4 separate regions of the Homo sapiens genome follow, and all the other regions are reported to be linked to region 1. The links are microRNA targets in miRTarBase. Many come from high-throughput screens and were not tested one by one. Region 1 holds a microRNA gene; each other region holds the end of a gene's coding sequence.

What was found. Region 1 holds the annotated microRNA hsa-miR-5004-3p (CUUGGAUUUUCCUGGGCCUCAG, at 2,266-2,287, opposite strand). A microRNA usually pairs through its seed, bases 2 to 8, with sites in the 3' UTR of a target mRNA and lowers its output. Matches are read on the target gene's strand: a 7mer-m8 pairs with bases 2 to 8, a 7mer-A1 pairs with bases 2 to 7 and ends in A, and an 8mer does both.
Region 2: miRTarBase lists EMP2 as a target of hsa-miR-5004-3p. Seed matches in the 3' UTR shown: 8mer at 4,220-4,227, 8mer at 4,095-4,102 and 7mer-A1 at 3,844-3,850.
Region 3: the mRNA of RALGPS2 is a reported target of hsa-miR-5004-3p. Seed matches in the 3' UTR shown: 7mer-A1 at 2,826-2,832 and 7mer-A1 at 1,589-1,595.
Region 4: the mRNA of WNT2B is a reported target of hsa-miR-5004-3p. The part of its 3' UTR that is shown has no 7-base or 8-base seed match.

What each region holds. Positions count from the first base shown.
Region 1 is chr6:33,435,261-33,440,683 of GRCh38, reverse strand. It overlaps MIR5004 (microRNA 5004), which reads right to left and starts at 2,353; the gene lies at 2,247-2,353. It overlaps SYNGAP1 (synaptic Ras GTPase activating protein 1), which reads right to left. Exons shown (of 19, transcript NM_006772.3): 6 at 5,379-5,423; 7 at 5,071-5,169; 8 at 2,393-3,016; 9 at 2,121-2,265; 10 at 1,765-1,909. It overlaps SYNGAP1-AS1 (SYNGAP1 antisense RNA 1), which reads left to right. Exons shown (of 3, transcript NR_174954.1): 3 at 3,203-3,321. RefSeq lists a silencer at 2,654-2,831.
Region 2 is chr16:10,528,516-10,533,938 of GRCh38, forward strand. EMP2 (epithelial membrane protein 2) reads right to left here. Exons shown (of 5, transcript NM_001424.6): 5 at 1-4,577. The coding sequence ends at 4,390. Among named protein-coding and RNA genes, the nearest start is that of LINC01290, 3.0 kb to the left of the region's middle. RefSeq lists an enhancer at 5,157-5,423 and a silencer at 5,157-5,423.
Region 3 is chr1:178,915,429-178,920,851 of GRCh38, reverse strand. It overlaps RALGPS2 (Ral GEF with PH domain and SH3 binding motif 2), which reads right to left. Exons shown (of 20, transcript NM_152663.5): 20 at 1-4,522. The coding sequence ends at 4,493. Among named protein-coding and RNA genes, the nearest start is that of ANGPTL1, 47 kb to the right of the region's middle.
Region 4 is chr1:112,520,156-112,525,155 of GRCh38, forward strand. It overlaps WNT2B (Wnt family member 2B), which reads left to right. Exons shown (of 5, transcript NM_024494.3): 5 at 125-5,000. The coding sequence ends at 354. ST7L (suppression of tumorigenicity 7 like) reads right to left here. Exons shown (of 15, transcript NM_017744.5): 15 at 3,359-5,000. Among named protein-coding and RNA genes, the nearest start is that of WNT2B, 14 kb to the left of the region's middle.

The DNA of each region.
Region 1 (5,423 bases):
AGAGACCGGGACTGAGCCCCAGAGACCCTCAGCTTCCAGGGAACATGCTGAGGGGGGTGGTAGGAGGTGAGGGTGTGGAAACAGGGGTGAGAGAGACAGGGAAGGAGGGACCGCAGGAGCAAGATGGGAGGCTGCTTGAAGAAGGGGGCCATGGCAGAGGGAACAGACAGATTAGGGAGAGAGAAATGGAGGGGGAGAGAAGGTGAGGGGAGAGACACGTGGGAGAGAGATGGAGGGGTGTGGGAGAGAGACAAGGAGAGGAGGAGAAGAAAAACAGACACCAGGGAGAGACAGAGATGGGAGAGAGATGGAGGGTCACTTGAGGTACAGGGAGCTCGGACCCCCCAACTCTTCTGGATTCCAGGGAAATGGGGATGGAGGTGCCCCAGGCATGATCCCCAGTCCCTGGAATGGCTCAGAGCTCACTCCCCGCACCTCCCAGTTCCACTTCAATGTCCCACTGACACCTTAAACTCGGCTGGTGTAAAGCAGAGCTCACCATCGCCCCCACACCTCCAACTGGCTCCTCCTCCTGACTTTCCTGGTTGTCAATGAGGCCACCGGTCTCCCAACCACCAGCCTCATGGCCTCTTGAGTCATCCGTGACTCCCCACAGACATGCTCCCTCCTTTCCAATAAGCTGACAATTCCTACTGATCCTTTCCCGAGAGGGTCCTTCCAGTAGCTCCTTCCTAACTTCTGTCACTGTTCTGATTCAGGATCTGACTTTCATGCCTCCGAGCCCCCAGCTGGCTCTATTCCAGTCATCCCCCAACATACATCCCTCTACTCTACTACATACACTCTACTTATGGATTAATTTTTTTTTTTTGAGATGGAGTTTCACTCTTGTTGCCCAGGCTAGAGTGCAATCGTGTGATCTCGGCTCACTACAACCTCCACCTCCCAGATTCAAGTGATTCTCCTGCCTTAGCCTCCCGAATAGCTGGGATTACAGGCATGTGCCACCACATCTGGCTAATTTTGTATTTTTAGTAGAGACAGGGTTTCTCCATGTTGGTCAGCCTGGTCTCAAACTCCTGACCTCAGGTGGTCTGCCCGCCTCAGCCTCCCAAAGTGCTGGTATTACAGGTGTGAGCCACCGTGCCCAGCCTATGGATTAATCTTCTAAATCACAATATTTCTGACACCTTTAATGGCATCCCAAGGCCTACCAATGACCTCAGACTCCTTGAGGCCTTCCAGTTTCTAAAGCTAATCTTCCTGCCCAGACATCTCTCCCGCCACTCCCCATTATGAGGCACATGCTCCACTAAACCTGATGTAATTGCTACTAACCTACTTTAATGTCCCCTGAAAACTCCTGGGCCTTTTCACCATCACACATGTGCCTTTCTCACAGCCTTCTTCTGAAATGTCTTTCTTGCCAACTATGTCCATATATCAGAACCTAAACCAGTCTTCAAAGCCTACCCAAGGGGGCACCTCTTCCCCACTTATCTCAAAGCTCTGCCTTCTCTCTGACCTTATGTCACACAGAGGTTGGGGGGACCCTTACTCAGCACTTACACACCATTATGGCTCTGTGGCTTTTTTTTTTTTTCTTCTAATTTGTCCCCATTCTGGTGGAGGCCCTCTGAGGGCAGGGACCAGGCCTCTTTCACCTGTTTGCTCTATAGCGCCTAGAACAATGCTTTGCCCATAAATGGTGCTCAGTCCTCTTTGAGGATGGACAGATAGATGAACAGATGAACACATAATTCCCCCGACCCTGGCCCCCCAGCCCAGCGTTCCCAGTCTCACCAGTGGGAGTTGACCACCTTGCACAGGGCCAACTCACAGCACATTCGCAGGTTGGCCTGGTGCTCTGCCAAACTGGATGCTGTGCACTTGATAGGGTCTACCTCGCAGTTTTCCTCAGATTCATACAGAGCACGGATGAATTCTCCTGGGGGGTGGGGGCACAAGAGGGTGTGGTCACACTTTCCAAGGGCAGGGAAGGGGGTGGCCAGGGTTGGGGAAATTTCAGAATCAGGTGTTGGAGGCTGGAGTCCTAGGACTCTGGGTTAGGAAGTATCAAGCTGTGGAAGGGTGGACTTGGGGTCTGGGGTGGACATCTGGCAGGTTTGGGAAGAAGAGGGCCTGAGTGTGGGCCATACCAATGGCATCCTTGAGGTATTTCTGACCAATCAGTCTCATATACTCTTCTATGGCTTTAGTGGCAAGCGTGTTCTCGCGGAATATGAGGTGCTCCCGTTCCATGAACCGGTCTACCTCAGACATGGCCATGTCTGAAAGGAAGTCCTGAGGCCCAGGAAAATCCAAGTGTCAGCCTCTGCACAACCCAATCTCGTGAATTTGCCCTGTCCTCACTAACCCCCAAGCAAGTGCCCATTCCCAAGTCACCTTTCCCTGAGGGCACAACACTCACCTTGGCCTTGCCTGTACTCTGCAGGATGTGAACTAGTGCACTGGCAACCTCCTCCTTGCCTTTGACATTCAGGGCGGGCTCCAAGACTGCACACAGCATCCGATAATGGTTGGTGACATACTCTGCAAACTCTTTATATAGCTCCATGGGCAAGATGCTCATTGTCTGGTAACGTGCTTTCAGCCGCACAGCCGGGCAACCTCCTTTGCCCTTGCCCCCTGAGCCACCCCCCGAGCCCCCTCCCCCTCCCGAACCCATGCCCCCAGATCCCCCACTGCCTGTTGGCAGGGTTACAGGGTACCACTGCTCTGTGAAGTGGCGCCCAGCCAGGGTGGCCACTGGCACAGTCACCAGGCCGACATAGCCTGCCTTGTCCTTCTTGCGCTTTTTGTCTGAGTCACGGTACAGATGCAGCCGCAGGGCACGGACAGCCGGCAGGTTGTTAAACTCGAAGTGCTCGCCCCAGAAGACGGTGTCCCCAGAGGCAGAGCGGGGCTTGGAGGTGGTGCGTGCATACAGCATGTCATCCAGGCAGAGCTCACAGTAGTACCGCTTCTTGGGGGGCAGCTCCCGGGCCTCTATGATCCACAGCTTTAGCACATTGTCTACCCGGCGGCTGTTGTCCTGGCATGGTGGGGTGGGCATGATGTTAAAGGGGGAAGGGACAGAGAGACACCAAAAGAGGAGAGACAGTAAGAAAGTGGGATACAGACAGCAATCATAAGGTGAGACGGTGTACTGGGTTGAATAGTATCCCACCAAAACTCATGTCTACCCTGAACCTGTGAATGTGATCTTATTTGGAAACAGGATCCCTGCAAATGTAATCAAACTAAGAAGAGGCCAGCCATGGTATCTCATTCCTGTAATCCCAGCACTTTGGGAGGCCGAGGTGGGTGGATTGCCTGAGGTCAGGAGTTCGAGCCAGCCTGGCCAACATAGTGAAACCCCGTCTCTAATAAAAATACAAAAACAAATTAGCTGGGCATAGTGGCACGTGCCTGTAATCCCAGCTACTCAGGAGGCTGAGGCAGGAGAATCACTTGAACCTGGAAGGCGGAGGTTGCAGTGAGCTGAGCTCATGCCATTGCACTCCAAGCCTGGGAAACAAGAGCGATATTCCATCTCAAAAAAAAGAGGCCATACTGAATTAGAGTGGACCCTTAACCCACCTTATAAAAACTGGTGTCTTTATATGGAGAGGGAGATTTGGAGACACAGAGATACAGGATACAGAGACACACAGAAGGAAGCCAGCTACATGAAGATGGAGGCAGAAATTAGACGGATGCAGTTATAAGCCCAGGAATGCCAAGGACTGCTGGCAACCTCCGGAAGCTAGGAAGAGGCAAGGAAGGATTCCCTGCTACAGCATCAAAGAGAGCGTGGCCCTGCTGATACCTTGCTTTTGGACTTCCAGCCTCCTGAACTGTGAGAGAATAAATTTCTGTTGTTTTACGTGACCCAGTTTGTAGCAGTTTGTTATAGCAGCCCCAGGAAGCTACTGTAGAAGCGTAGACATACACTAGACAACACAAACAGTATTGGAAAGATTTCAAAAGCTGGAATAACAAGCCAAAAATATTAATGTAGAATTTGAAGGGAACTGGAAAGTCCTGCAGAGACTATCAGAAATTGTGAAAAAAGAATTGCATATAGAATGGGTAAAGCTTGGCCAGATGTGGTGGCTCATGCCTGTAATCCTAGCACTTTGGGAGGCTGAGGCAGGCAGACAACCTGAGGTCAGGAGTTTGAGACTAGCCTGGCCAACATGGTGAAACCTCGTCTCTACTAAAAATACAAAAATTAGTCGGGTGTGGTGGTGCATGCCTGTAATCCCAGCTACTGGGGAGGCTGAGGCACAGGAATTGCTTAAACCCAGGAGGCGGAGGTTGCAGTGAGCCAAGATCACGCCACTGCACTCCAGCCTGGGTGACAGAGTGAGACTCTGTCTCAAAAAAAAAAAAAAAAGAATCAGTAAGGGCCTGGGGGGATACAATTGAGCACAAGCTAATGGTAAGGCTCAGGTGATATTGCAGTGTGTTGAAAGGGAACATGGTGTTTGTACTCTGCATAGGTCAGATCATGTCAGCATCTTGGGTTGAGTTCTTTAAGGACATCAAGACACAAGAGTTCCCCCCAGAGGAGTGTGACTAGGACTGTAAGCTTGCTAGAAACTGGGATACAGAGAATAGCTGACAGAACTGGAAGCATGAAGTTTTGGGAAGAACAGACTCATAGAATTTATGTGCCAAAGGGACCTTAGAGATCATTTAATCCAACCCATTGCCACCAGTTCCCTCTGTCTTAGAGAGGAAACCAAGGTACAGAAACTTGGCTAAGTGTATTTGATGTGTCCTGCGGGGTATTAGTGAAGCATTCCTGCCTGCAGGGAAGCTAGACTAAAGAATTTCCAGAGCCCCATCAACTCTGTAAGTCTATGACTTCTATGGCAGGGAAAGAGATCGTAAGGCAGGGTAGCAGTACAGAAAGCGAAAAGAAATGGGGGACTCAGAATAATGGGGGTCTCCCCCTGCTTGTCCAGATACACTGTACCTCAATCCTCTCCTTCCCCAAGCCTCTCCTCCTTTAACTCACTTTCCTCCCTAGGCCCCCAGCTTCCCGTGTTGGTGCAACCTTTGCCCTGCACAGGTTGTGTCCCCTTTATTCCCCAATACCTTGTTGGGCTTTACTGCCCGCTGCAGATTCTCAATCCATTTGTCTCTTTCGGCCGCAGACCGACAGGCAAAGCATTTTGTTCCTGATGAAGTTGTTACCTAGAAAGGAGTGTGGAGTTGAGGGAAAGGGCTACAGAGGGGAGGAGACTCTGCTACCTTCTCTTCCTCCCTGGCCTACCCTTTCCTCCAGTCCCAGAAGTTTCTGTTTCCTTGATGTCCCCACCTGTGCCACTTTCTCTAGACCTCTCTGCCCCCCACCTTCCATCACCCCTGTCCTTTGGCCCTCCCCAGCCCACCAGACCCAGTACCTCAAAACAGAACTCCTGGCCCAGGATGGAGCTGTGCACTGGCTT
Region 2 (5,423 bases), not on the chromosome of region 1:
TGGCAGCATTCTGCCCTAGATGTCATCACCGTTGGGAACATTAGAGTCTTGCTCTGGGCAATCTGGTTTTAAACTTTATTTTCCATGTACAGTTTCAGATTATACAAAACATAGAAAATGGACTATTTTAAAGGTACATTAAGTAGAAAGTTTCTAACTACCCTAAAGTCACAAACCAAGATTCAAAATGAACCTCTAGGCCTTGCCCTAACATTTCCCCAACACCACAAAATTGTCCAACTTGCTCTATTGTAAGTAACCTTTAAACTATTAGCGAGTTTAGTAACATCCCGCGAGGCAGATTTTAAACTACGATACAGTTTCTATCTAGGCCACTGTGTTTAGTGTGTTTACAAACAGGCTTGGAGTTCTAGGTTTCTTCATCATCAGTGAACACAGAGCGTCCTAGAGCGCCAGCCTGTTCATGAGGGGTGTCCACAAAAGCACGCAAACTATAGCAGAGTGTGTGGGAGTGAATAGGTCTCCGATGTTCCTGTATTCAGGTATATATATATACACATTCACACAGACCAACAAGTCAAGCATTCTCCAAACTCATTTGAACAGAGACCCAAAATAATTTTAATGCAAATAACAAAATGAGTTAGTCTGTCTCCATCACATAGCCCCTCAATGAAAGAATTACAGTACTTTATAAAAATGTCATAAAATGCGCAAACTACAGTTCCTTCAAATACAGTTGATGCTATCTTTGGTCCTAATATGTGCTTCTTGGATGTCTACTAATTTTGTTGTTGTTATTGTTCTTGAATAACTGGTAATAAGCACCAAGTGAGGGCTGATTCTATCTACAGGTAAGAAGCTTGGATGTTTTCTCCCTGATTTTGTCATTTCTTTCCAACTTCCCAAATGCATGTCATACAGCAGGGAAGAGGCATCTCTCATGTCTCAAAAAAGCTTAATGGCACAGGTGGATGTGGGCACTGAATGTTGTACAGCAGTGGCAACCAGCCGGGAAAATCCATAGGATCATTTCAGACCGCATTCAACACAGATACTCATGTAGCCCCGACGTTTCTTGTGAAGGGAATTGATGTATTGCTTGAGGGGGTCGATCTCTGGTTCTAAGGTGTTTTGTTTGTTTCCATCGTGACTACCAGAAAATTATAGAAGGCCAGACGCAGTGGCTCATGCCTGTAATCCCAGCACTTTGGAAGGCTGAGGTGGGCGGATCACCTGAGGTTGGGAGTTCGAAACCAGCCTGACCAACATGGAGAAACCCCATCTCTACTAAAAATACAAAAATTAGCTGGGCATGGTGGGACATGCCTGTAATCCCAGCTACTCGGGAGGCTGAGGCAGGAGAATCACTTGAACCCAGGAGGCAGAGGTTGCGGTGAGCCAAGATGGTGCCACTGCACTCCAGCCTGGGCAACAAGAGCAAAACTCAGTCTCAAAAAAAAAAAAAAAAAAGAAAAAGAAAAAAGAAAATTATAGAAAAGCCACCAAGGTAGAAAGTTTCAAGGGAACTTAAGATTCAACTTCCTCCATGAGCTTGGGTAGCATCCTGTTAACCCTAGGGGTGTAAGCCACATTCTTGCCCACAATATGACTAGTGAGAGTATCTCATGGAGGCAGGAGGTGACATTTGTCCTGTCTCTGGCCCCAGGTCACCCTGTACTGCATTGGTGGCTTCTCCATAGGGAGGGGGTCCTATCTCATAGACTCCAAACTTCATGATGGCAGGGAGGATATCTGGATTTGCTCACCCCTGTATTTTCAGAGCCTCACACAGTGCCTGGAACATGGTAAACATTTAATACTATCTGTCAAAAACAAATGAATGAAAGAGCAGATGGAAAGAGCCAATCCTGCATTGAAGAGATATCCATGGTGGCCCTAAAACTACTCAAACCAGATGTCTCTTCAGCTCCACTGGAACTGAGCTGATGGCAAACCACCACTCCACTCAGCAGAAGGTCAAGTGCAAAAGTATTTAAATAGCACGAGGTCCCACACCCCATCCCAGGACAGCCCCCAGCATCCTGCTCCAACATAAGCAGAAAAAGACAATGAGGTGCAAAGAGCTTATCTCCTGGGATGGTTCCTGGGTGGTCTGCATTGCCACACAGCATCATGCTTTGATCCTGAAGGACAAGGCCCCAAAAGCCCTATTTCTCAGCACAGTCTTAAAATCACCTGGAAATCATTCACCCAGACCCTCTGAATCAGCCTGTCCCAAGCAGCACGGGAACCCCTAAAGCTTGAAAACTCCAGCTCTATGGGACCCTCTCACCGCATTTACTGTCGGGACCATGGGCCCCTCCACAGACATGTTTTCTGGGTGTTACACAGACAGGTACTGCCCAATAACTGTCATCTGCACGAACTGAATGGAGCTATATTTAGACTGATCTAAATACCTAAATGCCTCCAGGAGCATTTAATAATAGGCACGCGTAAAGCAGCCTCCCTACCATGCCACAGGCCTCGATTTTGAATCGTTTTATTTTTGAGACGGAGTCTCAGACTGTCGCCTGGGCTGGAGTGCAGTGGTGAATCTCGGCTCACTGCGACCTCCGCCTCCCAGTTTCAAGCGATTCTCCTGCCTCAGCCTCCTAAGTAGCTGGGATTACAGGCACCTGCCACCACACCGGGCTAATTTTGTTGTATTTTCGGTAGAGACGGGGTTTCACCATGTTGGCCAGGCTGGTCTTGAACTCCTGACCTTGTGATCCACCTGCCTCAGCCTCCCAAAGTGCTGGGATTACAGGTGTGAGCCACCGCACCCAGCTGATTTTGAATTCTTAGTGGTGTTCTTTGCAGCCTCCATCACAGTGTGTAATTAGTTTCTTTTCTTTTTTTTCTTTTTTTGAGATGGAGTCTCACTCTGTCACCCAGGCTGGAGTGCAGTGGCACGGTCTCGGCTCACTGCAACCTCCACCTCCCATTTCAAGTGATTCTCCTGCCTCAGCCACCTGATAGCTGGGATTACAGGCATGCACCACCACGCCCAGCTCATTTTTGTATTTTTAGTAGAGACAGGTTTTACCATTTTGGCCAGGCTGGTCTTGAACTCCTGACCTCAGGTGATCCACCCGCCTCAGCCTCCCAAAGTGCTGGGATTACAAGCATGAGCCACTGTACCCAGCCAGTTTTTCTAATTAAGTTTTAATCTGTCTCCTCCACTAGGCCATGAGCCCTAGGAGGAGATTGTCTCTAGAGGGTATCCCCTGTGCCTGGCACATGCATGCAAGTTATGATTTATGTTGATGAATGAATGAATGAATGAATGAATGAATGAATGAATGAATGGTGGATGGGTCCTCTGAGGCTCTAGAAATAGGGGTGAGAGGCCAGCCAGGTGTAGCATGAAGGGCTGGACAAGAAGGGAGAGGCCTTCTGGGATAAGATGGGAAGGAGGCTGTACCCCACACCCTGAAGGTGTCTATGAGTTCACATGGCTCAGGAATGGAGTTTTGGGGCCCTAGATGTAGACAGCTGTGGCGATGGAGGCCAAGGTTTTGGCCTGCTGTGGGGGTTGCATTCACCTCCCCATCTCCACATGACGATACCCCAGCATTTACGAGGCAGCTCTGCTGACCTGGCCCAGGCACCGTGGTCCCCAACTTCAACGCATCTGAAGCGTTGCCCAGGGAGCGCGTTAGAAATGCAGATTCCCTGGCCCCATCCCTTGAAGACTCTGATTCTGTAGGTCTGGGGTGAGGGGGGGGGCGCTGTAGGTTTTGCCTAAAGACGAGTCTAAATCTGGCACGCAGGTTAAGGATGACCATTCCTAAGGCAAGCAGGTGACACTGTCGGCAAATTGAGGTGAGACTTTTTCTGACCCACCCCGATACCGGAGGGATGGCTGGGCTCTGGTTTGGATACAGACAGAATGCCAGGGACTACACCTGCTTCTCACTTGGAACTTGGGTGAAACCTCTCAGGAAGCTGTCATTCTTCTCCTATACCCCACCTCACCCTCTTCCACCCACCACTAGCAGAGAGATTCGGGAGGGGCTTGGGCCAGCTGAAACCCATAGGAAGCACGTCCCCAGAGACCCGGCTTTCCCAGCCTCTCCTCTCCTCCCATCACAGCCCCATGGTTAAGAAATGTCCTGCCGAGTGCTTTTGGATTTGAGCATTGCTGGATTTTTGCTTGTGTCTTGTTGAGACTTTTGAGTGGGCAGCAGTTCTGAATACCAGCCTTCATAGTCTATTCTCTGATCTCAAGAATGCAAAAACTCTTCTCTCTTTTGGATTTTTTTTTTCTTTTTTCTTTTTTTTTTTTTTTTTTTTTTTTTTTTGGCTTTTAAAGGAAACAATACGTTTGCTAGAAAAACCTCAAAAAATAATGATTATATACAAAATGGTTATCTGAATGTGGATTCTGTACTGCAGCAGAAGCAACCCAGCTCCGGAACTCTATTTGCGCTTCCTCAGTATCAGGTACATCATGCCGCTGATGAAGGTGCAGGCGAAGGCCACCCACGCCAGGATGTAGGAGTAGCCGTAGCTGCCTTCTCTGGTCACGGGATAGAATTTCGCGTTTTTGTCGTGAATGTCTTCACGCCTGTCTGTATAAATGGAGGCCGCAATCATGACACACAGACCTGTCAGGAAGAAAGGTGAATTTTCAATAAATCATGGACCACAGTGCACCCTGGGTAGCCCAGGGGCATACGGCCAGAGTTGAAGACAAACTTCAGCTTTTATTCTTTGTTTATTATTATTTTGTTGTAGAGACAAGATTTTGCCATGTCACCCAGGCTGGTCTTGAACTCCTGAGCTCAAGCAATCCTCCTGCCTCGGCCTCCCAAAGTGCTGGGATTACAGACGTGAGCCACCGCGTGCAGCCTTAAGCTCTTATTATTAATAGGTATTTATTTTAGTCTATTGGAAAAATTACAACTGATATTTTGTGGAAGGATATTGTCACCTACCCTGTAGCTATTTTGCTTCCCATTCTTGCTAACTAAACCCAGTTTTGTTTGGGCAGCCACATCACCAACCCAGAGGGTGAACATAATTGGTCTAAGCCAGAGGTCCACAGACGTACCCTGTAAAGGGCCAGACAGTAAGCAGTTTAGGTTTTCTGTGGGCCATGGTCACACAAGTCTGCCACAGTAGCATGACACCACCTATAGACAATACAAAAATGAATAATAGTGGCAGTGTTACAATAAGATTTTATTTACAAAAACATGTGGCAGGCCAGATTTGACCTATGGGCCATAGTTTGCCAACCTTCTTCTTGGCAATCTGGTTCCTGTTTACTTGTTATAGCTGATGGGTCAGTATGTATCCCAGTTCTGACCACAGAAAACCTTCAGTGAAAAATATGACTCCCTGGGCCGGACACGGTGACTCATGCCTGTAATCCCAGCACTTTGTGAGGCCAAGGTAGGTGGGTCACCTGAGGTCAGTAGTTCCAGACCAGCCTGGCCAACATGGTGAAA
Region 3 (5,423 bases), not on the chromosome of region 1:
TGGAAATAAATCTCATTTCTGGCCAAAGGGATTTTCATTACAAGATTTCAGTACATTTAACAAAACTCAAATATTTCTGGTTGTATCTTATTCTTTTAGGGCTTTTCCAAAAGGCCTTACAATTAAATGTATGCTCAAAACATCAACAACAAAATAAAAATGAACTTGGCTGAAGAGTGCTCTTCAAATTTGTTTTTAAGAGTGCTTATCTAAAGGTTGACTGGGGTGGGTTTATTTTTAATCTCCTACTCTAAAAGGATAGAAGCAGGGTAGGAGCTTGTTTAAAAAGACTCAAAAACCAAGGAAGACTGCAACAATCACCTACAGAGGTTTCTGTAAAGACTTTGTTAGACTTGGGGTGAGAAAGATTAAGCTGGTGGAGAGAGGGATAGCACACACTCCTGAAATAAGAGGAGCAAGAGGGCACATGATTATTGTCATACTTGATGCCCTAAAATTGCTCTTCAAATAATAAGGCACTGACCAAATTTTCTCCCCACTATAACCTGAAACATAGGTGTAATCAAATTGCTTTCAATAAGCAAAAGAGTTTTTATGCCTGGATCTCTTTCATTAGAACCCTCCAAATAGGGAAAAAAATGTCACTTTAGACACAAGCCATTTTTAGGGGAGCAAAATCAAAGGTACTTAAATCATTTTGAGAAGGTTCACATGGAAAGTAATTCATCATCAATGTGATTAAATAGCAATATTTGTATCTCAAAGCTTAGAAAAAACAGAATACCACTTTGGCTGTAAAATCATATATTTACTATGTTTGAAAGAAATAATACAAAAAAGAGAGGAAAATAAAAGCAAACCCTAAAAGGTCACTAAAGAAGTCATACCAACCTCATCACTTGCTTTGTATCATCTATTCATGCAACAGCAGTACTATTACTCCACCTGGACACAGTTAAACTCATCTTCCTTTTCAAAAAGGGATCCAATTATTTCAAAAACCTTTGAAGCAGAGGATTTGCTTTATTAAAGATTATCTTCTGTTAGGCAACACTGGCACCCCTTGTTTGCAGAAGATGATTACGTGGTGGTTTAAACACTGGTTGTAAAGGAATGTGCCTCAAAAAAACAGGAAGGAAATCAATACCAGATCTATTCATTTAAAAAGCTAATGGATGGAACCCATTACTATTGATTTTCAATTAGTATGATGCCCTATAGTTTTGTTTTCAGTAGTAAAGGTATACAGTTTACGATTTAACCTTAAAAAGAAATAAAAGACTTATGCTCAAGTCATTTGGCCAAAAGATCAACAGGCTGCTCTTTGAGGGCCCCAGTTTAAGCTAATAAGGAAAGCTAGAGTCTGTAAACATGTTTTCCATTCTTTTTTCCTCCTGTACCAATAGTGCTTCCTAGGCTCCTCATAAATCTTCTAGAAGAGGAATAAAGCCACTTATACAAACTTTGCAGTTATAAACACCCTGACTTTTGATATACAGAAAGAACCAATACCAACACAGTCCACACAGAAGGTAGTGCAATAGTTACATGGCATTTTCCACACAGAAAAAAATATTTGAAATTGAAGCACATGCCTAGGGAGAAAAAAATACTGAAACTCAAATTGTTTGGATCCCTTTTTGTAATGTTTGCCCAAATAATATTTACATAGTGAAGAAAACAAAATAGGAAGGTGTGTTTGATCAGTTCTTGTTCAATTCTTACTGTCTGGAGGTAAAAATCATATTCTGAAAAACAAGCAGAGCCTGAACAGAGCGGGCACGAGGCCAAAAACAGTGCTCTGGAAGGTCATTCTGTAGTTATTTTCAACAGGCTATATAACATGCCAATCATTATGCTTATCATAAACAGGCTTAAATTGAAATTATAACTGAATTTCTAATGAGTTCTTCTTGGCTAAGGGTGAAACAAATGACCTGAATGCTGATGAACATTTTGAGTTTTTGAGTCACTTATTTACAATTGAGGGCAGGCTTAATAAGAAGATTCATCTTCCCACGAATGAACTACCTATATATTTAATATATTTTGGTAACATATTTTCTTTGAATTATTATCAGGTATTATTTGGTAAATTATAGATAAAAAATTCACCTACACTATTTTAAGTCACTTTTCTGTTTTCAATTTGCTTCAAATGCTAAAATAATCTTAAAAAGCAATGACTAATTTTCTGAATGAATAAATTTTAAAGACAGAAAAACAACGACTTCTGTGCTGTTAAGAAATTTAGTCAGTCAGAGGCCACAAGTCTATCTATAAACTATTAACCAAATTTGAACGCTATCTTACTCTACGCAAACATCCATTAATGTTTAGAGCCGAAAGTATCAAAAACATCTTCCAGCTTAGCTCTCTCCCTTTGGCAAAACTATGTGATGTCAGGCTCTGACTTCCAACTGCATATTTCCACAGATATGGTTAACCTACAACATTTCTACGTTAGCTTATTATGACAAACAAATGAAATAAAAAAAATCCACAGGGTTCTCATTCACAATACTTTTTAAAAAAGCACATACACTGTTAAAAACGCTATTTCTGAAGAGAAATAAACAAATTAAGAAATTTTTAAAAATGCAAAACAAAAGTAAGATGTGCAAGGTCTACGTAGTAATACTGCTGGCTATGTCTTTCTATTACCCAACATGGGTTAAGCTTAGAGCATTAATTGAAAAATCATTCAGGACAGGAAACTTTTGTCCTCTCCAGCCTGTGTCACTAAACCCCAGAAATAATGGTATTTCTGTTACATAAGAAGCATATTTGAACTCTTAACATCTTTTCCAAACAGAATACTAAATTAAAAAACTTAACACTCAAAAAAAGCTCTTCTCTTTTCCTTTGGATGGATTTTAAGCTAATTATTGTATAAGCAATATTTTCTATTGAAGTTTCATGGACTCAAGGGCAAAATACTTATAATAAAAAAGTATAAAATTCTCTAAGAATACGAATGTGAGAAATTTTATGTGAGGCCCAAAGTAACAGAAGTCTATTAGTAGATATCAGTCACAAAGCATTACCTTACTCTAGGCCACTGCTAAAATTCATTATGTCTCAAGAGTTTATAACATTCGACATATAGCCTTTGTTTGAGTGTCATTTTTCATTAAAATTCTAAGGCATCTTACCTTCAAACTTTTTTTTTAATAATTCAACATTTACTTTAGAAATTAAATGCATCATTGCATAGAAGAGTTCTCATAAAACTGCTTGGTCAACTACTGACAAAATACGGTTTCATGTCAGAGACCGACAGTAAATTTTCAGAAAAATGTTTTGGTATGTTTATGGTAAATCATACAAGTATAAAGTTTAGATACTTAAAATTTCCAGAATCTGATATTTTCACCTTTATCCCTCTTAAAATTATTTTGTATGTCTTATAACAAAATATATACATACATCTCTATGTGTTACCTTTTAAACAAATATGATCCTGAATCTCATATTGAACAAAAAGAGAGAAAATGAATAATAAAAAAATAACTCTGGCATTATGCACATCAAACACTGTAAAAGAAAATATCCTGACAAAATATCAGTCTGTCTTGATGATAAAAACCACCTATGACTGGGAGAAGGGAAAACCCAATTAACTTGGAAAAAGATCTAATTATTGTAAAATCTCAGAAAAGTTTAGGTTGGGATTATAGCTCTTTACTTAAGCAGATCTGTGGTCCAACAATGAATTCATATAGAAAGCTAAACTTTAACCCTAGTTAGAAACAACCATGTTTTCTGGAACCTATTTAAAAAAAAAGCGTCTGGCAAATGAACACACAGCCTTTGTACCTCCTGCAGGAAATAATGTTCCCCTTACAGTACTACATTTCAGAAGTTTAGTGTTTAAAAAAATTCTCCCCTCATCCAAAACAAAACAAACACCCCCACCCAATCCCAAACAAACCCAAGAACTCACATGACTAACATTTCTCATTCCTACACTCTTGCTGTGAGAAAGCCAGTGAGGTTGCAGACTACTAGAGGGAGAACAAACCTTGCAGGTGGGCTGCTGGTACAATCCCTGCTAAGTCTCTTCACCTCGGTTCAAAACCAGCTCCTGATGGAATCCACAAGAGTATGTTTTTCCTTTTTAAAGCATATCTAAAAAAGGCAATTCCCCCCTCTAAAATTATTACAAAGTTAAAAGAAATGCAAATTAGCTACGATCTATTCCAAGCACAGCACCGCCAGAAGATTCACACACACTATTTGGTGTTTCATGTTGGTTTTCCTTTCATTCTTTTAAGGCAGTGGTTTCCACAGGTCAGTTCTGAGATAAGAAGCATGGTTCATGGCAGTTTGTTTTGCAACTCCAATTTGTTCTCTGGGAATATCTCAAATCATTCCCTGAAATTAGTGCTTTTTTGGTTGAGAACTCCAACGACTGAGACAGAGCCTCTGGGCTCTTCCTGGCACAGGATGGTTTATAGCTGGCGCTCTTTTATCAGGTCCTCATGCTCACGTAGAAGCAACAGTTCACCTCTCTTTTTTTCTCAGGCTTCTACTCAAAAGTCATCAAGTTTGTAGGAACCTAAAAAATATAAGCATTAAAAACTGAGTTTAAAAGTTGTTTTTCAAAGGAGTATTTCTTATCTTTCCTTGTTATTTAGGCAAGCCCAATCTTTCTACTTAAGTATCTTTTAAAAGGAACTTGATATAAGGAGCTTCAATAGTTTATGAATAATTAACATGCTAGAACATTTTTGAGAGAAAATCACCAAAATGAGTTAATACTCTTTCTAGTAAAATGACATCTATACAGGAGAAGGGGTAGAGACAATATCTTTCTTGTCTAACACAGGGGGCTCAGTAGACGTTTACTGAATGAATAAATGAGAGCAAGAGTAAGTATGACTCTGGTAGGGTGAGATTCCAGATACACTTGTTTGCCATTATTTATTTTCTCATTATATATTACAAAAATTCCTAGGTGCATATTTTTAAAATCAGCAAAAATAATTTTATAACAAACATTACTAAGAATTTATTTGTAAAATCATGATTAAAATAAGTACAGAAAAACAAAATTCCTTATTAGAGTTTCACTATGTTAAAACAAATCCTCAAAACCAGTTTTCCAAAATACTGGGAGAGGTATTCATATGTCAGTGGTCTTTTCTGTCCTTAAGACAGCTCTCACAGTTTAGCAACCTCTCTCTGAAACCTATTATATGCAAAAACATAAATACCTTACAAGTGTCAGCTTCTGAATAAAAAAATTATGTTGGCCAATGTACTCATAACTGAATTACAAATCAAATACAACACAAATGCTCAAGTGCTTAAAGTATAAATTTTCAGGTCTGATTATAAGAAACTCATATTTGGCCGGGTGCGGTGGCTCACGCCTATAATCCCAGCACTTTGGGAGGCTGAGGCAGGCAGATCACCTGAGGTCAGGAGTTTAAGACCAGCCTGGCCAACATTGTGAA
Region 4 (5,000 bases), not on the chromosome of region 1:
GTGAGCCACTGTGCCCAGCCCAAAAAAGCGATTCTTTTTATCTTCCTTCTGAGAATGTGGTTAAGGGTATCCAGGGCAGCTGAAGAGATAACTTTGTTCTCACTCCCTCTCTTCCCCAACCCAGGTTCCCTAGGCACTGCAGGCCGTGTCTGCAGCAAGACATCAAAAGGAACAGACGGTTGTGAAATCATGTGCTGTGGCCGAGGGTACGACACAACTCGAGTCACCCGTGTTACCCAGTGTGAGTGCAAATTCCACTGGTGCTGTGCTGTACGGTGCAAGGAATGCAGAAATACTGTGGACGTCCATACTTGCAAAGCCCCCAAGAAGGCAGAGTGGCTGGACCAAACCTGAACACACAGATACCTCACTCATCCCTCCAATTCAAGCCTCTCAACTCAAAAGCACAAGATCCTTGCATGCACACCTTCCTCCACCCTCCACCCTGGGCTGCTACCGCTTCTATTTAAGGATGTAGAGAGTAATCCATAGGGACCATGGTGTCCTGGCTGGTTCCTTAGCCCTGGGAAGGAGTTGTCAGGGGATATAAGAAACTGAGCAAGCTCCCTGATTTCCCGCTCTGGAGATTTGAAGGGAGAGTAGAAGAGATAGGGGGTCTTTAGAGTGAAATGAGTTGCACTAAAGTACGTAGTTGAGGCTCCTTTTTTCTTTCCTTTGCACCAGCTTCCCGATACTTCTTGGTGTGCAAGAGGAAGGGTACCTGTAGAGAGCTTCTTTTTGTTTCTACCTGGCCAAAGTTAGATGGGACAAAGATGAATGGCATGTCCCTTCTCTGAAGTCCGTTTGAGCAGAACTACCTGGTACCCCGAAAGAAAATCTTAGGCTACCACATTCTATTATTGAGAGCCTGAGATGTTAGCCATAGTGGACAAGGTTCCATTCACATGCTCATATGTTTATAAACTGTGTTTTGTAGAAGAAAAAGAATCATAACAATACAAACACACATTCATTCTCTCTTTTTCTCTCTACCATTCTCAACCTGTATTGGACAGCACTGCCTCTTTTGCTTACTTGCTGCCTGTTCAAACTGAGGTGGAATGCAGTGGTTCCCATGCTTAACAAATCATTAAAACACCCTAGAACACTCCTAGGATAGATTAATGTAGTAAGTCTGGCTAGGCCTTGTGTTGCCTTTTTTTTTTTTTTTTTTTTCTTTTCTTTTCTTCTCTTCCCATGCACTATTCTGGAGGTTTGCCAGGTTTGGGGAGACATGGAGTAAAAGAAAGATAGGCAACTCATGGATGGTGGGAGAGCAGGTAAGCAGGTCTGATCTCAAGGGCCCACATGAGGCATCAGTATATATTAGGCAGGTAGGGATCTCTGGCTTTGGTAATTCTTTATGAGAGGATCCTAGCCTTTGAAGCTGGGAGCAGGAGTCAGTGGCTACAGTGGGAAGGAGTACTGCAGGTTGGGGCCAAAGTGATACACAGCTTAGAAGGCAGCCTTCCTCCACTTACTCAACAAATCTTTATTTAGTGACTCTCCAAGTCCTAGTGATTATTATTATTGTTCACTCCACATTTGGCTTAATGGGTAATGCTATTACCCATTGCCTAACTAGGTTTGCAGTAGTGGAATCTCCAGAGATAGCAGGCTTAGTAAGCTGGAGGTAGGACATGAAGTCCCCCAAAACTTGATGTCCTATTTTTATGTGAGTTGGACAGTGGTTATCTTTTGCCTGTTGATATCTTAAAGCAGCAGAGTGGTATAGAAATTTGCGGTTATGACAGACCCGGGTTAAAAATCACAGCTGTGCCATTTGCTTTGATATTTTGAGCAAGGTAGCTAAATTTTCTGAGCTTCTATTTTCTCATCTGTAAAATGAGGATACGTACCTGTTCTTTTTTTTCTTTCTTTTTATTTCTTTTAGAGATAGGGTCTCGCTTTGTTGCCCAGGCTGGAGTGCACTGGCATGATCATGGCTCACTGCAGCCTCAAATTCCCAGGCTCAAGCAATCCTCCCACCTCAGCCTCCCCATTAGCTGGGACTACAGGGCCATGCCATCATGCCCAGCTAATTTAAACATAGTTTTCAGAGATGGAGCTCACTATGTTGCCCAGGCTGGTCTTGAATTCTTGGTCTCAAGCAATCCTCCCACTGCAGCCTTCCAAAGTGCTGGGCGTACAAGCGCAAGCCACTGTGCCCAGCTGTCAGACGCTGAGTTTTAATTATGCACCAAACTCCAGCCCGCAGATCCTCTTCACCAAAGCCCCTGGCTGGTCTAGCCCATCATGACTTCTCTAGGAACAGTCCTTCTTTAGGACTATAAAGTATTAACAAAAGTCTGTAGATTAAGGAGCCTGCATAAAGAATTCTGGATACAGGCCCCTGTCTTTCCAAAGTTCCTCTCCAATATCCCTTGGGGTCCTCATGTTTTTGAAGCAGCTTCACTCTGCACAGGCAGCAGGAGGTTGGGGGAGCCATAGCTCTGGGCCACGGGGGCAGATTTATTTGGATGATAGGACTAATATTTGTGTAACCTGCTGAGACCTGTGTGGGAGAGTTTAGGGTGGTTTTTCTTTTGGTGAGGGGATTTGCTCTGGTTTCACATCCATTAACACAAAACATGAGCTAGTCAGGGCCCTTGTGGTCTGCGGTAAGGGGATGCCTGTGGAGAAATGGGCCTGAGTGAGTCAGGCCAAGAGAATGTCTTCCTTCAGAATGGAGTCAACTGGATAACTGATGAGCCAATGGTGGGATTAAGGAGGGGGAAATGGGAGGGGAAGAGAACAGCTGACATCTTGAGGAAAGCTTTGGGGTAGTGGAGAGGTAAGGGGGTCATGGTCAGTCTGAACTCAACAATAGGGCTGAATGAATTTACCAAAGGAAGCTGCCTTATATTATATGCCAGGCTGCTGGGGAAAGCCTCAGGTCCTGGCCAGCCCCTGTTCTCACAAGAACATGCAGGTTACCACATAAATAATGGCATATGCCTTCCATAGGACGTCAACCTGACTTAAATCTACCTATACCCTACTCTCTATTCTTTGGTTTTTGGTTCTCATCCCTGTGGAAGGAAATGGGCCTCTTCTGGCATCTCATGCTACTCTGTGCTTTTCCTTGGGCTCCAAATTCTAGCTCATAAAGATGCAAGTTTTGCAATTTCCTATAAATGGTTAAGAAAAGAGCAAGCTGTCCAGAGAGTGAGAAGTTTGAAAAGAGAGGTGCATAAGAGAGAAATGATGTCCATTTGAGCCCCACCACGGAGGTTATGTGGTCCCAAAAGGAATGATGGCCAAGCAATTAATTTTTCCTCCTAGTTCTTAGCTTGCTTCTGCATTGATTGGCTTTACACAACTGGCATTTAGTCTGCATTACACAAATAGACACTAATTTATTTGGAACAAGCAGCAAAATGAGAACTTTATTTGGTGCAGTCAGGGCTCCATTTAGTTCCCTCACTCTGCTTCTAATCACCCCTTCTCCCAGCCCTCTTCTATTTGATAGAGGTCTGTCCCTCAGATCAGCAATGTCTTAGCCCCTCTCCTCTCTTCCATTCCTTCCTGTTGGTACTCATTTCTTCTAACTTTTAATAAACATTTAGGTATAATACATTACAGTAAGTGCTATTTAGATACAAACTTAAAACATACTATATATTTTAAGGATCTAAGAATCCTTTAGAGAAGGCACATGACTGAAGTACCTCAGCTGCGCAGCCTGTAGCCAGTTTTTTTAATGTAAAAGTAAGAATGCCAGCCTTAACCTAGCCCTGCAGATAAAAGCTAACTTTTATTAATACCAGCCCTGAATAATGGCACTAATCCACACTCTTCCTTAGAGTGATGCTGGAAAAATAAAATCAGGGGCTTCAGATTAAAAAAAAAAACAAAAAACAAAAAACAAAAACAAACATTGCCTGGCCCTGAGGGTCTGTTTGCAAAACTTCTTGTAGATCTAATTTCTGAACACTCACTGCTTCATTTCTATTCCTCCTGTTGCAGGGAGTAATTTCTTCTCCTTTGTCTCACTTCCCTTATCAAGAACACCAACCAGTAAGTCTTTGCCAAATTCTCAGACCCACTCAGGACACGAGTCTCTACATGGCTTAACAGAAGAGAGATAATTAGGATTTTTTTTTCCTCAGTCTTTCTGAGGTTTTTATTTAAATGCACTCAGTGGTCATAGGGCAGAAGCTCAAGCTAGCTGGGGCGAAGGGAGGACGCCAGGGAGAGTATGTTTCTCATCCCTGGGAGGCATTCAGCCTAGCTCCTGCAGCCAAATTACAGCACCAGAGAACAATGTGATGCATTCCTGGGCAGGTCGGTGGGACCCTGGGCGCCTGGGCCTTGTGGAGAGAGGTGCCAGACACAGAGTTCTCCGTAAGCAATCCTGCAGAGCCGCCCCCTGGGTGCAGAAATGAAATACGGGAGAGCTTCACATTACACAGAGACCTGTAGCTCACACCTGGTTATTGATGGCCTTGGTGGAGGCCTCTGCCCCGACCCTCCACTTGGGAACTGCCTGCTACTACGGGGGTTGGGCATCTTTGAAGCAATGTTGGATAACAAGAAAGAGATGCTTCCTTTTCACTCTTTGCCCTCCCTGTCAGCCTGAGCACAACCATGAGGTTACACACACACACACAGAGGTGTACATATACAGACACATAGAGAACTTCTCTCAGGCTGCATAGGAGTTCTGCTCATCCTCCTCTCCCCAACAATTAAAAAAAAAAGCAATTAGATTTCGATCCAGTACTTCAAAAAGGATACCAATAGGGTCTGGCTTTAATCAAGGAATATCTACAAAGTCACATTACCAACCTGCAGGCAACTCTTTGGTTTGGGGACCAGAACTCCTCTGGTGGGTGGTTGGGGGAAGGATGCAGGAAGGGCATGGTGAGGAGAGATCAGTGGTGAAGAATTACCATCAAAGCAGAGTGGCTGAGACTGTATAAGTTCGCAAGGCTGGTTCATGCCAGAGATAGTGAGATGTGCACCCTATGTGCTGAGAATGATGGAGCAGTCTCCTA